4 separate regions of the Homo sapiens genome follow, and all the other regions are reported to be linked to region 1. Evidence: microRNA targets listed by miRTarBase, many of them from high-throughput screens and not tested one by one. Region 1 holds a microRNA gene; each other region holds the end of a gene's coding sequence.

Evidence for each region. Region 1 holds the annotated microRNA hsa-miR-633 (CUAAUAGUAUCUACCACAAUAAA, at 2,026-2,048, shown strand). A microRNA usually pairs through its seed, bases 2 to 8, with sites in the 3' UTR of a target mRNA and lowers its output. Matches are read on the target gene's strand: a 7mer-m8 pairs with bases 2 to 8, a 7mer-A1 pairs with bases 2 to 7 and ends in A, and an 8mer does both.
Region 2: the mRNA of MAP4K2 is a reported target of hsa-miR-633. The part of its 3' UTR that is shown has no 7-base or 8-base seed match.
Region 3: the mRNA of MIGA1 is a reported target of hsa-miR-633. The part of its 3' UTR that is shown has no 7-base or 8-base seed match.
Region 4: miRTarBase lists PHC3 as a target of hsa-miR-633. The part of its 3' UTR that is shown has no 7-base or 8-base seed match.

The regions. Positions count from the first base shown.
Region 1 is chr17:62,942,250-62,946,399 of GRCh38, forward strand. MIR633 (microRNA 633) reads left to right here and starts at 1,966; the gene lies at 1,966-2,063.
Region 2 is chr11:64,786,323-64,790,322 of GRCh38, reverse strand. It overlaps MAP4K2 (mitogen-activated protein kinase kinase kinase kinase 2), which reads left to right. Exons shown (of 32, transcript NM_004579.5): 29 at 49-135; 30 at 364-434; 31 at 538-593; 32 at 699-4,000. The coding sequence ends at 786. Among named protein-coding and RNA genes, the nearest start is that of SF1, 9.8 kb to the right of the region's middle. RefSeq lists an enhancer at 1-314.
Region 3 is chr1:77,874,522-77,878,521 of GRCh38, forward strand. MIGA1 (mitoguardin 1) reads left to right here. Exons shown (of 16, transcript NM_001416120.1): 16 at 325-4,000. The coding sequence ends at 543. Among named protein-coding and RNA genes, the nearest start is that of NEXN, 12 kb to the right of the region's middle.
Region 4 is chr3:170,093,973-170,097,972 of GRCh38, reverse strand. PHC3 (polyhomeotic homolog 3) reads left to right here. Exons shown (of 15, transcript NM_024947.4): 15 at 589-4,000. The coding sequence ends at 743. Among named protein-coding and RNA genes, the nearest start is that of GPR160, 58 kb to the right of the region's middle.

The sequences.
Region 1 (4,150 bases):
AAATGTTTATGGGATAATTAAATTTGTTGAAGAATAAATTGGTAATGAGTGACTGACCTTGTTGTTTTCTAAGACAGAATCTTCCATCAATTTGTTAATTGTTATTCTGAGATTTGATAAAGGAAACTAATATAAATATAAACAAGAAAAGCTTTAATAAGGTCTTGGATGAAAAATCCATGAAGGACAGATTGGATGTTCATATTTCATCTTTAACCTTTTGAAATTGATTTGATGCCTCTTTAATAAAATCTTTCTTGGTATCCTTGTCAAATGTATAAGGCTGGTGAGAGTATATCACAGGTATGTCATTTATTTCATTCTAATATGAGTCATTGTACTATTCTGGATGTTAAAGAAATAAAAGACACAGCCCTTGAGCTTTCCAGAGAAAAAAATCTAATTGGAGGCTAAAACACACACCCATAAACCAACTTGAGGTAAAATCCAAAGAAACATTTTAGTAACGTCAAGAAATATGGTGTAGTGTAGACTAAAGCTGCAATAGATAAGGAAAAGAAAAAGAAAAAATGATTACACTTGGGATGTGTTTATTATAAGGAAGGCATCTGAAAAAAGGTAAATTTTGGCTTTAAAGATTAGATGGAAATATACAGAAAAGAAGGGGCATAGATTTTTCTAAGCAGTGAGAATTACATGCAATACACGGAGGCAAAATAGTAAGTTATTATACATTCAGGCATCTATAAATAGACAGGCTTGAGGAATCAAGGGAAAGTATGAAGCTAGAGAGAGGTGGAGGAGCAGTTGATAGAAGACATCAAATATGTTTATTTTTGAACTAGTGTGGAATTCTCTTTCTCTTTTCAGTAGAAATAACCTTCACTGTCAACAGCCCAGTCAGACCCCTTAGCTGATATAATGACGATCGCAACTTCCTAGGCTATTATTTGCAATAATTTCTGCCATATGAGTGTAATGGGAAAAATACATTGCAAAGTGAATGACTTTTGAAATGTATTGCATGCTGACATTTGGGAAATTAGATCCTGAACACAATGCATCCTGATTATTGAGGTGCCTTGCCACCATGAAAAGATAAATACAGTCCAACCATTCAAAAAATCTGCATGTTAAATTAATTTAAAGTTCTGTCCTTCGGCAAGGTTCTTCTCAAAACTTTTGGTCACTATTCAGGCAAATAACCATGAGCAGACACTATCCCTGGCCTAGATAGCCTACGTGGGTCTGAGGAGTCCAGAAGTGCCCTCGTTCAAACATAGCTCCATCTTATGAGGAATCCTGCTGTGCTCATTCTCCTATGTACTTGACTGCTCCAGTGCTAGAGGTGCCTGTGCTCAGCTGGCATCCTTTCCATTTCCTGGGAGAAGCACAGCCACGCTCTCTTATGAAGAACAAACAACTCTTCACATCTCCATTCCCACACAGCAAATTCCTCCAGCACCACCAACCCATCTCATCATGAATGTGCATTTGCTTTCCTCTGTAAAGTTTCTGTATTGACGGGCTGCTGGGCTGAGCAACAGTAATTTCAGCAGTCCTGGCTCCACAAGCACAGGTCAGGAATGGGTTTGAAGAAAGCTCTTCTGAAGATATCACAAATTTTGCTGTTTTAAGCCAAGGCCTGCCTTGTTTACTGAACATGTCCAATTTGTGTGCTGAATAGAGCAATATAACGAGAGGAAGGGAAGATGGACAGGGAAATAATGGGACCTCACGTGCAGATTACAAACAGAACCTAGAAATTAACTGAGAATGCTAAAGAGGAAGAGGAATATGAAAGCAATAGTGAAGGGTCAATAATTTCCACATAAATCAGACCAGATGATTATTTTGATCATTAAATTGATTTAACCACAGCTTTATATACAATCAGAGTACATGGCTCTATATATAACAACAGCTCTTGGTTGTAGTCAGAGAGGACTGGGTTTGAGTCCTGGCTTATTGCTTACCTGATTAATGGTTTTGGTTATGCTACTCAACCTCTCTTAGCCTCTGTTTCTTTATTGCGGTAGATACTATTAACCTAAAATGAGAAGGCTAATAGTATCTACCACAATAAAATTGTTGTGAGGATAAAAAAAAATATTAATTAGGATGCAGTATGAAAAAAATAAAAGTTAGCTATCTTTATTTTTGAAATTTATGTAAGTCTAATTTCTCCAAAGTAAATTGGCTTATATTCACCAGGAGGAATGTCTAATTAAAAGAATCTTATTCTGAGTCTTTTGTGGCAGCAGATTATCACTATCTGATCTTTCTTTTACTTCTGTATTTTCATTGAGTTGGCTTACATAAAGCTGCACTTATAAATTTAAATATGCCTCCAATACCACTCGGCAAGTCTTCTTATAGAGAGCTAGATACATATTTAATAAACAGTTAATATAGTTTGCAACTTCCCCAAAGTAAATTAGGTGAAAAATCCCAAATGCTTGAATTTGGGGAAAAATTTACACATATAAATATGAATTTATTTATTTATTTATTTATTTTTAATTTTTTTTTTTTGAGATGGAGTCTTGCTCTGTTGCCCAGGCTGGAGTACAGTGGCGCAATCTCGGCTCACTGCAACCTCCACCTCCCCGGTTCAAGCAATTCTCCTGCTTCAGCCTCCCAAGTAGCTGGGACTACAAGCACATGCCACCATGCCCAGATGATTTTTGTATTTTTAGTAGAGACGGGGTTTCACCATGTTGACCAGGCTGGTCTTGAACTCCTAACCTCATGATCCACCTGTCTTGGCCTCCCAAAGTGCTGGGATTACAGGTGTGAGCCACTGTGCCCGGCCGAATATATTTATTATTGTTAGCCCTTGTTACAATGCTGCCATTTTATAAATCAGGAAACTGCGGCAGAGAGAGGTTAAATAGCTTGATCAAAGTTACATTGATTGCTGGGCACATCCTCTCCATCCTTTTCCAGGTGCCTTATACCTAAGTATTATCCAAAACTACCTCTTCATTTCAGCCTGCAAACCTCTTCCTATATTCCTTTTCTCAGTTAATGGCACCACCATCCACCCAGCGATCCAAGCTAGAAATCTGCGAGCCATCCTAGACTTCTCCAGCTTCCTCATTCCTCATCACACTAAGTCCTACAGTTTTATCTATCAAATATTTATTGAATCTGACCTCCTCTTCTCCATTCTTATCACCACTGCTTTTCATTCAAGCTTCTATCATTTCTCACCCAAACTACTACAACTGTCTCCTCACTCATCTCTCTGATACTAGCCCTGCTGCCTTCACATCAGTCTTCTAAACAGCTTCCAGGATGATATGTCTAAAACACAAACTAATCATGTCAATCCCCAGTTTAAAAACCTTCCATGGTTCCCAATAGAGACTGTTTTTTGTTTGTTTGTTTCTTTGTTTTTGTTTGTTTTGTTTTGTTTTTGAGACAGAGTCTTGCTCTGTCGCCCAGGCTGGAGTGTAGTGGCGTGATCTCGGCTCACTGCAACCTCCGCCTCCTGGGTTCAAGCAATTCTCCCGCCTCAGCCTCCCGAGTAGCTGAGATTATAGGCGTGTGCCACCACACGCAGCTAATTTTTGTATTTTTAGTAGAGACGGGGTTTCACCATATTAGCCAGACTGGTCTCGAACTCATGACCTCAAATGATCCAAACGCCTCGGCCTCCCAAAGTGCTGGGATTATAGGCATGAGCCACCACGCCTGGCCGACTGCTTTTAAAATAAAGCCCAGTCTTCCTAGTATGGCCCTTGTGATCCCAAAGAACACCTCTCTCTTAGTCCTAACAAAGTTTAATTAAAATGAAGTCTTTGTGTGATTCCCCCCACTTTTAGACTTTGGGCTCTTGAAAGGCAGAGACAAAGTCTTTTCATCTTTGTAATCTCAGTATCTACCAATGCCATTTAAAAATTATTGAACCCAAATGAAATGATGACATTATATTTGAACTTAGTAGATCAGCTTACACTTTTAAAAACAGTTTTCAGTCAGGTGCGGTGGCTCATGTTTGTAATCCCAGGACTTTGGGAGGCTGAGGCAGGAGGATTGCTTGAAGCTAAGAGTTCAGGACAAGCCTGGGCAACATAGCAAGACTGACTCTAAAACAAAAATTAGCCAGGCATGATGGTGCATGCCTGTAGTCCCAGCTACTTGGAGGCTGAGGTGGGAGGATTGCTTAAGCCCAGGAGTTTGA
Region 2 (4,000 bases), not on the chromosome of region 1:
CAGAAGGGAGCCTCCCCGTCCCCACTCACCAATTCCTTCCCTGTGCAGGCTGTGTGAGGATTGTCAACATGCAGGGCGAGCCCACGGCCACACTGGCACCTGAGCTGACCTTTGATTTCCCCATCGAGACTGTGGGTGAGTGAGCCAGAGGTGGGGTGCAGGCCTTTCCCTGGCCTGGAGCACGTTGTTGCTCAGGGGCCTGGGGCTGGCGGTAGGATGAGGAGGCAGATCCCCTAGCCCCTCTCCTGAGCCATCCTGGTCACCTGAGGTCAGTGAGGACCCCTGTGGCCCAGACCCAGGCTCAGGCGTGGCTGAGGGGGTGCCAAGATGGGTGCAGGGCTGATGGTGGCCTGGCCCCCATAGTGTGCCTGCAGGACAGTGTGCTGGCCTTCTGGAGCCATGGGATGCAAGGCCGAAGCCTGGATACCAATGAGGTGAGTGGGGCCCAGGGACCTTGCTGTCCCCTGCCTTGTGGTCCCTACCTCTTTGGAAAGGACCTACTGGAGTGGCCTCAGTGCTTCCCACCTGTCTTCCCAGGTGACCCAGGAGATCACAGATGAAACAAGGATCTTCCGAGTGCTTGGGGCCCACAGGTAGGCGGTGGTACCCTAGCCTCCCCTTCAGATGCCCCTGAGGCCAGAGAAGGGGCTGATGTACCAAGTGTCTCCCGCCCTGCCCCCTACTCCTCTCTCCTCCAGAGACATCATCCTGGAGAGCATTCCCACTGACAACCCAGAGGCGCACAGCAACCTCTACATCCTCACGGGCCACCAGAGCACCTACTAAGAGCAGCGGGCCTGTCCAGGGGCTCCCCGCCCCACCCCACGCCTTAGCTGCAGGCCCTTTTGGGCAAAGGGGCCCATCCTAGACCAGAGGAGCCCAGGCCCTGGCCCTGCTGGGGCTGAAGGTCAGAAGTAATCCTGAGAAATGTTTCAGGCCTGGGGAGGGAGGGGAGCCCCCGACGCCTCTGCAATAACTGGACCAGGGGGAGCTGCTGTCACTCCCCCATCCCCGAGGCAGCCCAGTCCCTAGTGCCCAAGGCAGGGACCCTGGGCCTGGGCCATCCATTCCATTTTGTTCCACATTTCCTTTCTACTCTTTCTGCCAAGAGCCTGCCCCTGCATTTGTCCTGGGAAACACGGTATTTAAGAGAGAACTATATTGGTATTAAAGCTGGTTTGTTTTAGTCCTCTGGTCCCTCTGGGTAGGGGGAGTGAACCCACCTCATCTCCCGCCTCCTTCCCTCCAACACACGTTTCTGTGGGCACCACAGAAGGGCAGGGCCCCCAGGGTTTTGGAGAAGCCAGGTAGAGGTGACAGGAGGCCATGGCCCCCAGCAGCCTTCTAGGGGCACTGTGCCTTCCCCTGCATCCTTGCTCAGAACTGACCCTCAGCTTTGCAGTTTGAGGGCTCTGCTGTAGTTTAGCACCCCAAGGACTCATGCAGATGGGGGGACCTCAACAAAGGGACTCTCATCCAGGGCACCCTTGCCCCACGTAGGATCTCACTGGGTGACCCCTGGAAGGGCCCAGGAGGAGCCCCCAGAGGGCTGTTCCCTCCATTCCCATGGAGGCTGCTGCCCATGGAGGTAGCCTGTGTGACCTGTATCCCCTGCCTCCACCTACTGCCTAGGTGTTAGACCAGGAACATCAGATGACAGCACGATCATCAGATTGGATGGGAAGGCTAGCCTGTGTCCGTCTACCAGACTCCCAAGGGCTGCCTCAGTGCCAGGCCCTGGGGTCACTACCAGAAACAGACCAGCCCCCAGGGAGGGCGTCCTCCTTGCTGGAGCCTGCATCTTGAGGGCATGGCCATTCTCCTGTAGCTTGTGCTTACGCTGTCATTCTCCAAGGGTCTGTCTGCTCAGCTCTGAATGCCAGGGCCCCCAGGGCTGGGCATCCTCTTTTGCCCCAGGCACTGATCAGCCGCTCTTGACTGGAGCCTTTGGGCAGCTGCAGCCCAGGAGGCAGGATGGGAACTGCCTTGAGGGCCCACAGCTGGGGGGCTGGGAAGGTGGGGGCAGGGTGGGGGGAACAGCTGGAGCAAAGGCCCCATGGTCACCCCTACATTCAAGGCAGGTGTTGGAGGAAGACCTTTGCACCTGGTGGGTGGCAATAAAGACTTGCGGAGTGACGTGGTAGGTGGATGGCAGCCATGCGAGTAGGCTCAGTGGTTCCCAGGGTGTCACACTGTCCCCTCAGCCACCCTCCAGCAGAGTTTCAACTGTTCTGACTCTGTCCAGTGACTGGGAGGGTTTCTTGGCTGGAATGGGGAGCCAGCCCAGGGGAGGGAACACATCTCTTCACACCAGGCATTCACACCCATGTTCCCGTGAGCCCCAAGGAGGGTGAGGGGCACCTTCCAAATTGGGGTCGGTGGTAACAGGGATACAAAGTGAATTCCTAACTTCCAATTTTCCAGATTTCTCGGAGGAATGTTGGGACCAGGGTGGGGTAAGTGGGGACAGGGAGGTGAGCTCCTGCTCAGCAAAGGCCCTGACCAAAGGCGCCCTGGGGAGGACTGGCTTTCCGTTCACCAACCGGCCAGCAGCAGACAGTGCCTCCTTGTGGCGGATCTTCCCGGACCTCAGATTCAGTCTGGAAACGGGGTTTGGACTGCAGAGTGTAAACTGCCAAAGTGGGGGCCTCCCATAAAACGCTTGCTGCCAGCAAAGGCAGGCCAAGAGCAAAGAAAGGCCGAGAAACCAGGGAATATGCACTGAGAGACTAACACTTTAAATTTTATTTATGTATTTTTAAATGCGTAACCTTTGCCCATGGTACATATTTTTTTAAATACAGCAGAGATATAATGAAGTCTCCCTCTTACCCCGTCCCCAGCCACCCTGGTCTCAGTTACTTATGAACCCTTCTAGAAGTATTTTGCGTATTTAAGCAATTTGGTATATTTTATTCTTGGCGATTTTTTATATACGTATTAACATATTCCACATACTGTACTGACCTTGCCCTTTAAAAATATATCCTGGGGGGCCAGGTGTGGTGGCTCACACCTGTAATCCAAGCACTTTGGGAGGCCGAGGCGGGCGAATCACGAGGTCAGGGGTTCGAGACCAGCCTGGCCAACATGGTGAAACCCCGTCTCTACTAAAAATACAAAAAATTAGCTGGGCATGGTGGCGAGTGCCTGTAATCCCAGCTACTCGGGAGGCTGAGGCAGGAGAATCGCTTGAACCTGGGAGGCGGAGGTTGCAGTGAGCCTAGAACATGCCACTGCACTCCAGCCTGGGCGACAGTGCAAGACTCCGTCTCAAAAAAAAAAAAAAGAGAAAAAAATATATATATATCCTGGAGAATATGAATGTATTAAATTATCACATGCACCCTGAAAAGATATGTATATATCCTGGAGAGTTTTGCGTTAAAGATCTCCCTTTAAAAAAAAATTTTTTTTTTTTTACAGCTAGTGGTATTCCATTGTGTATGTTTCCCATAACAAATGTTAATGACCTGCAGTGAGATCCCTATTGGTGGAAATTTGAGTTGTTTTTACTACTTTTATATTACAAACAATGCTGCAATAAATATTATTAGGCTAGTGCCCCTCTGTACATATTCAAGCACTTCTAGAAGATAAGTTCCTGGAAGCAGCATTAATGAGTTAGCGGTGGCTACATATGCCGTGGTGATAGCTGCTGTCCAGTTGCCCCTCCATGGGCAGAAACCTGTGGGAGGGTCAGACCAGACTCTTTAAGTCATTCTTGAGGACAAGTAGAAGGGACGTGGGCCCCCCCAGGATGTTCAGGTAACTGGCCCATACCCGGAGTCATCCTGGTGAAAGTCAAGGGGAGCACCATGATGTGTGCTTCGGGACGGCGGAGGATCTGCCGTGTTCCCTGTGGCATGTCCAGCACCTGCTCACTACCAGTGCTCAGGAGACCCTCACGAGTAAGGGAATGGACAAGATGTGGTGAAGAGGAGTCCCTGCAATCTGCCCTTGGACTGGGTGAGCCACCCCAGCTCGCTGAGCTTTACTT
Region 3 (4,000 bases), not on the chromosome of region 1:
AGGCACTTCTTATAGATTATCTTTTTTTAAATGTTTCCCCACCTTTTCATGGTATCACATAGGTTATCTTTTTTGATCATCATGTCATCCCTGAGTAGTAAGTAGGGTGGGTGGTATTAGCCCTATTTCACAGAAAAAGAAAATGAGCCCCCAAAAAGGAAAGGTTAAATCACTTGTGCAAGGTCCCTTTTCTAATGAGATATGAAACTAGCACTGGAAGTCAGGTCTTCTGAGTCCTGATTCAGTGCTCATTATAATATTAGAAGCTTTCTCAATGTAACTTAATTTTGGTCTAATAAATGCCAATTTATGTTCATTTTCCAGAATCAAGTTCTTTTATTTCTCAAAGACATTTTTGACTTTGAGAAGGTGCGCTATTCAAGTACAGAGACTTTAGCTGAAGACCTCATGCAGTTACTCATTCGCCGCACTGAGCTTTTAATGGCCTATCTTGAAGCAGATGCCCTGAGGCATACAAGTAGTTGTCTAAGCAGTCATGGTCATGTTATGTCCACTGGGCTACTGGAAGCCAAAGTACAATAAGTACCATAAGAATCATACAATTTGAGTGTGCTATGAAATATTTTAAGGTAACTATTGATTTTGTAACATATATTACAAAGTTAACAGAATTGATGCATGTGGATTCAGGGAGGAAAAAAAAATCTACTAAAAAATGAGCAACTGTACTGTATTTATACAGAAGTTCTGTCATTGAATTCCTGTGTAGTGTAGTCATAGTGGCTTTTTGCATTCATTAGGTAATAATTGAAGTCATGAAATGTATATTTTACAGAAATATCGCTTGAATTGAAGCCAATATTTGGGAGTTAATTGGTTTGTCTTCTTGAAGCTGTCATTCTCAAAAGCTCTGTTTTTATGCTTTGCACCTTTAAAATGTACACTTTAGCCAAGGTCTTTGTGGCCCACACATGCAAGAATATATTACTTCTAATGTCAATATATTTAACTTTGCCTAGAAACATATTTTTAATTATAAAGTTATTCATTTGTTTAATCAAGTTTAGGCAGTAATGATGTTTAATATGTACTGCATACATTATTGCTTGTGCATTTGCTTATGTATTTGAATCAAAGAAATTGTAATCACTGAATATTGTTATAGAACATTTAAATGGGCCACTTGCAGTGGCTCATGCCTGTAATACATTGGGAGGCTGAGGCAGGAGGACAGTTTGAGGCCAGGAGGTTGAGACTAGCCTGGACAACATAAGGAGATGCCTGTCTCTACAAAAACATAAAAATAAATTAGCTGGTATCAAGCAGAGTTCCATGGAAATATTAAAATTTTTTTAAAAAATAAAAATAGGCTGGGTGTGGTGGTTCATGCCTGTAATCCTAGCACTTTGGGAGGCCAAGGTGGGCGGATCACCTGAGGTCAGGTGTTCGAGACCAGCCTCCCCAATATGGTGAAACCCCGTCTCTACTAAAAATACAAAAATTAGCCAGGTGTGGTGGCGGGCGCCTGTAGTCCCAGCTACTCGGGAGGCTGACACAGGAGTATTGCTTGAACCCAGGAAGTGGAGGCTGCAGTGAGCCGAGATCGCACCACTGCACTCCAGCCTGGGCAACAAAGTGAGACTCTGTCTCAAAAAATAAATTAATTAAATTAAATTAATTAGTTGGGTGTGGTGGCATGTGTCTGTGGTCCCAGCTACTTGGGAGGCTGAGGTGGGAGGATCACTTGAGTCCAGAAGGTCAAGGCTGTCATGAGCTGTGATTGCATCACTGCACTCCAGCCTGGGCGACAGCAAGACCCTATCTCAGAAGTGAATAAATAAAACAAATACAGCATTTAAATGAATTGACATTGAGAAATTTACAATTTACAAATTTATATTAACTGTAGTTTCCAAAATATGTTACTGTTGGTCCTGTAAGTTACAAAGAGACTGAAGAACTTTCTTTTTATACATTAGAGCATTTTCCCCTGGAATGAGTATTGATTAAAAAGATAACATTTATTAATTAATAAAGGCAATTTAAAATTTAGTGTTATTTGAAGACTGTCAACATCTGAAGGTATGAAACTTGGTACAGTGAAATAATTTCTCCTTTCTCCTTCCTTTTAGTTATTCCCACAGAAAACTCAGCCCAGTGGGAATTTGTCATATTATGCCCATGTTTTAAAAATATTCATAGTTTGAATCTTATTGACATTTTAAAGAAGAGTTTTTTCCTCCCTGGAATGTAAAACAAAAATATTTTTTAATGATGTGGAAGTATATATTTCATGTTCATTATGATAAATCTACAAACAAATGAATTGTTTTTATGGGTGGAGTTCTTCTATAAGAGTATATTAAATGCTTTCAGAGTTGTATTAATTTTGTTTCTAAATAATATACCACTTATTTGGAGTGACTAACTCAGTATGTAAGTAGATGAGATTTGTTGATTTTGCCCCTAAAACGGGCTTTAGTCATTTTAGGAGTGAGTTGCACAAAAGGACCTAAAATGCATTGTTTTTTGCCTTCTTTTAAGAGATGGGGTCTCGCTCTATTGCCCAGGCTGGAGTGCAGTGTGCTATCATACATAGCTCACTGCAGTCTCCAACTCCTCATACCAGAGGCATGTGTCACCATGTCTTACTCCTAAAATGCATTTTTAAAAAGCGAATTTTTAGATTAAAGTGCCTAGTTTCTGATTAATAAATAGAAGATGAAAAAAGTGGGCGGGAAAAGCATAATCTTTTAAGATTTGTAATTTTCTGTATGTGCCACATTTATGTAAATTAACTATAAAATATGGAATTCAGGATCATGCTGTTTTGCATGTACTTTATAGGTTATATAGCATGAAACATACAAATTATCACTGTTCTTTAGTATATAGCTCCTTGCCTTTTCTTACATAGATGCTTAATTTAACAATTACCTATTTATAGTTCTTATTATTGACGGGAATATGATTAGAAGTACCAAAACTAAAAATTCCATTATGTACTGTTTACTTTTTATTTAATATTACATGTTTTTACCTTGTTGCGGTATCTTTGGCCTTCACACACACATGTGTGCGTGCACGTGCATTTCATTACCATGTAGACAAGACAGTTATTGCTTATAGTAATTTACCCATTTGAGGGCTAAGTGTTTTAAGCTGTGGTTTTATAAGCAAAGCTGTAAGTAAATGTAATTTATTTTAGAAAGATATTATTTGAAATCAATTTTGAAGAATTGCACTATTTGATAATGCTGCTACTACATGAGATAACTCTGGGGAATTAATTTTATGAGATAAGATGAATGGCTTTCTAGAAGGTGTTGCTTTTTGTTTTTTCTTTTTCTTTTTTACATTTCATCTTAGAAAAAGTTGCTTATATTCAGCAGGTTGGTTTGTCAAATTCAGTGTTTGAGTTTGTTTCTGGTCAGTTCAGTAGCTGCTACTTTAGCAAGATGTGGCCTTTCACAAAAGAGGTAAGAGTGACCAAATAGAATTTTAGGACAATAAGTATAGGAAATATCTCTTTATCGTAAGATAAGAAACTTGAACTTTTTAAAGGAAATGTCCTCTTGAAAAGAACATTTCTGACTGCATGCAGAAGGGTACTTAAGACATATATAACAGGCCAGGAGCAGTGGCTCACGCCTGTAATCCCAGCACTTTGGGAGGCCCAAGTGGGCAGATAACCTGAGGTCAGGAGTTTGAGACCAGCCTGACCAACATGGTGAAACCCCATCTCTACTAAAAATACAAAAATTAGCCAGGCATGGTGGCGCATGCCTGTAATCCCAGCTACTCGAGAGGCTGAGGCAGGAGAATCGCTTGAACCCGGGAGGCGGAGGTTGCAGTTAGCCGAGATCGTGCCATTGCACTCCAGCCTGGGCAACAAGAGTAAAACTCTGTCTCAAAAAAAAAAAAAAAAAAAAAAAAAAAGACATATGTAACGGTTTCCATTTGCCTTAAAATTGGGTTAAATAGCAAAAGCAATGTCTTTAAAAATGATTAGTTTAGAGCCTTTTAGGGTAAACCCTGT
Region 4 (4,000 bases), not on the chromosome of region 1:
CAATAGATTGGTAATACAGTCTTGAGAAATTTGATATGTCCCGAGTGAACAATAAAAATATTTTAAATGTACTTTTCAAGTGAAGGTCATAAATTAGGATAAGGTACAAATGATAATGAAAGTGGTACTTACTTGAGAAAATATTTCTAGATTGTTATTTAAATGACAAAACATATTTTTGTTTCCTCTTTACCTATATGTGAAGGATATATTATACAGAGATAAGTGCATGAGGTATAACTAGTTAACCCAAACCTGTTATGTGGCATGCTTTGAGGTAACACCATAGTCCTTTTTGTGAAGGAAGTATTATATCTAGACTTCCCTCTTATGAATTATTTCTATAACATTATTTTAGAGCAAGAATTCCAAGCAAATTGCTTTACCTGGATTTTGAATTCTTATTTTCAGAATGCAAATACTCTATTCTTCAAGAGTGAACTCAAGACTACCATAAATAAATTTCATTTGTTTCTCAGCCTGTATTTCAGATTCTCAGACCCAGTGAGAGCATAACTGTGACTGTTAGGAGTAATGTCTAATTGTTGTATATTTAATTCTAACTTCTGTCCTCTGGTCAAATTCCAGGCTGCCAGGATATCGCAGATGAATTCAGAGCACAGGAGATTGATGGACAGGCCCTTCTCTTGCTGAAAGAAGACCATCTCATGAGTGCAATGAATATCAAGCTAGGCCCAGCCCTGAAGATCTGTGCACGCATCAACTCTCTGAAGGAATCTTAACAGGAACATGAAGCCTTGATAAAACAGCAGTTTTACTTTTCTCACAAAAACTTGTAAGGTAAAGGCCTAACTTGGTCTAGAATATGACACTTATTGTGGTGGATAGCCAAGCACATTGGGATCTCCACATCAAATACTGACATTTCTTCTACAGGTATAATAATTCATCATGCATTTTCATAATTAATAAACATTGGTAAAATTAATTTTACAGGTTACATGAAACATTGAAAGACTTGTTACAGAGGGCCATGATATTTTTCAAAGAAATGTGTTATACTAGATAATTTTTTTAAAGGTGATGTTTATCATTAATATAAAGAATCCTTTTAAAAGTAATTTAATGATTTACATTTCTCCTCTTTTGATTCAATTTTCTTATACATTTTTTCTACCCTATTAGTTTTCTAAAGGTTGTCATGAGAGGTATATTATGGAATAATTTAGTAGTCCAGTGACAGAATCGTATGAAATCAGTGTACATTTTAAAAAACATGTCTTTTAGACATATGCTTTATCTATAAAAAAGGAATTGTGTTCTAGTATGAACAATACTGATCTGGAAGTGAGAAGAGTTAGTTTCTATTCCAAACTTGACCAAGAATTTGGTTTGACTGAGAACGTTTTCCTCTCAGTTTTTGTACATTTATTTAGAGCAGTGGTTCTCAGTGGAGGTCAGTTTTGATCGCCAGGGGACATCTGGCAATGTTGAGACATTTTGGTTGTCACAGCTTGGGGGTGGGTTCAGGGGAGGGTTGCTACTGGTGTCTAGTAGTTAGAAGCCAGAGATGTTTCTAAACATCTTATAATGCACAGGACAGCACCCCTCCACTGTAAAGAATTATTGGTTCAAAAATATCGGTACTGCCAAGGTTGAGAAACTCTGATATAGAAGGAGTGATAAATATTGTTTTCACCCAAAGGAATACTTTTAAAGGATGAAGCTTACTAAACATATATGATGGAAGTATTATTCAGATAACATTAATATTCTGCTGAATAATTTTTTCTAGTTTAATCATACTAGAAAAAGAAAAAAAATCTACAAATTGTCCTATAAAATAAGGACAAACATGCAAATAATTTAACTCTCAGAAAGTACTAATTCATTCTGATTATCTTTCATACCTCTGTGCTCCTCTGCACTGACGAAGACATAATATGATTATACCTATGAACTAGTGCACAGCCTTTTCTGGCAAGAAAATAGTTTGTAGCAGATACGTGGTTGCTCTTTGGATTTTTTTCTATTGTTGAACATGCTGGGACTAGCTAGAATGCACATTCCTACTTCCTTTACCAAACGTTTGCATGCTTCCTGCAAAGCACTTACCAAGTGATTTCTCTTGAACCATCGGATATAATTTTGTATGTACATGTTTGAGGAAAAAAATGTAAAGCAAAACCTTTTACTGAACAGTGTTCTATAGAATTATGACACTAAAACAAAATTGTTTGTGGAAGCCCTGAAAGCTTTATAGTCCTGGACATCAAAAATTTTATTTGAGATGATGAATGTTTTGTTTTCATCTTTTCTTATATTACCACAATTGAGATATTTTAGTAATTGAAGGAACATACACAGATATTTGGCAGAAGTCGAGTAAGGAGGGGAAAAAAAGAGTCCGTGAGTTTCAGTCATTTTCACTGCTCTTTTCAAAAAGATTGTGTTGAGCTGGTAGAAGACTAAAGATGTCACTGAAGACATCACAGATACTATATTTATCTTTTGGCTTTGTGTACATTAGAGAATGTTGATTATTTTTATACAAAAATACAGCGGGTAATTTTTTTAATCTTTAGATGCCTCTTGTTTGAATGTATGCTTTGTGGAATTCTTTGTGTAGTAATGTTTTAAAAAAAGATGTTTACTGATAGTTACATGTAGGATTAGAATATGTAATATAATATAAGGCTCATGTTCCAGACCTACGATAGCTTGTAGTCTATGTTACGTATTTCTTTATATCACATTTTTAATCATTGGATTAAAGTATCAAGGAAAGCTAGGTACTCTATAATGAGTTTTCATTTATTAGCAGTTAATCATCATGACAGAATTGTCATATGCTTGACTTTTCCCTCTTCTTGGAATTTCAGAACACAAATACAGGCTAAGCATTAGTAAGAGATGGCCCACAGTATGAGAGAGAGAGGTGCAACGGAAAATCTCGCCTGGAATTAAAACTTTTCATAGATTATCCACGGTTAATACAAAATTTATTATATGGGGATAGACTGCTCCAGCAATAATGATTACATCCTATAACTGTATTACCTATGGCCTTTAAGGTATCAATTTTGAACTGTGTTGTAGGCTCTCCTTTTATTTGTTCTCTTTCCTAATAGCAGCCATTCTGTACTTATTGAAAGCCCCTGTGCCTACTGCTGTCTTAAGTATTCAGGAGGGGCTTACAAGAGGGTTTTCTATTGGAGAATACCGTATAATCTTAAATCTAGTCCAGATCTCTGTTGTCCCCACTCAAAACATACACAAAATATGCACTTGCTTTTTTCAAGTGAGTTTTTATTTAAAAATGGCTTGTTTGCTATCACATTGGTGCAGCTGTTTCTTTCAAGATGAGTTAATCATCTTAATTTCAAAGCTTCAGCTATATATAATGGATATATAGACAACACTGAGCATCCACCTCTCTCCTGAGCTTTAAAGCAGAGTTTCAGTATGATATAGGTGGGGAGAGTAAATTGTTTTCATATCCTTTCATACTACTACTAATAGTTTTAGGATTTTGACTGGGGAGAGATAATGACAAACAGAAAGGGAACATGGAGGTTCTTCCTACTTTTGCTACCTAAGTTTGCATTTTCTGACTTCCTTGCAGTGTTGCACTCTTTGTCCCATTGGGATAAAAAGCATAAGTTTGAAATTTTGCTTTAAGCCTTGTGTTCCTGGGGAAGTTAAACAACTAAGAGAGCTGATTTGTAAAAATTATTTTTTATATGACATTAATATTCATCAAGCCTTGTGTAGGCATGTGTAAGACACAGCTATGCAGCTTTGAGTAGTCAATATAGTATGAGATAGAGTGTTGTCCCAAATCCTCCTGTCACTTTTTAAGTAGCATATTATTTCCCTGATGGTCCTGTTACTTTGCTGTTGAATGCTCTAAACAGAACTTTTTAAAAGGTGTGTTTTAAGAGCAGTCACCTAGGAGTAGACAAGGTGGAATGGGAGGAGAGAAATGGTAATGCAAAAGCTTGAGCATGGGAAGAGTCAGAGGAGGAGGCCATCATCC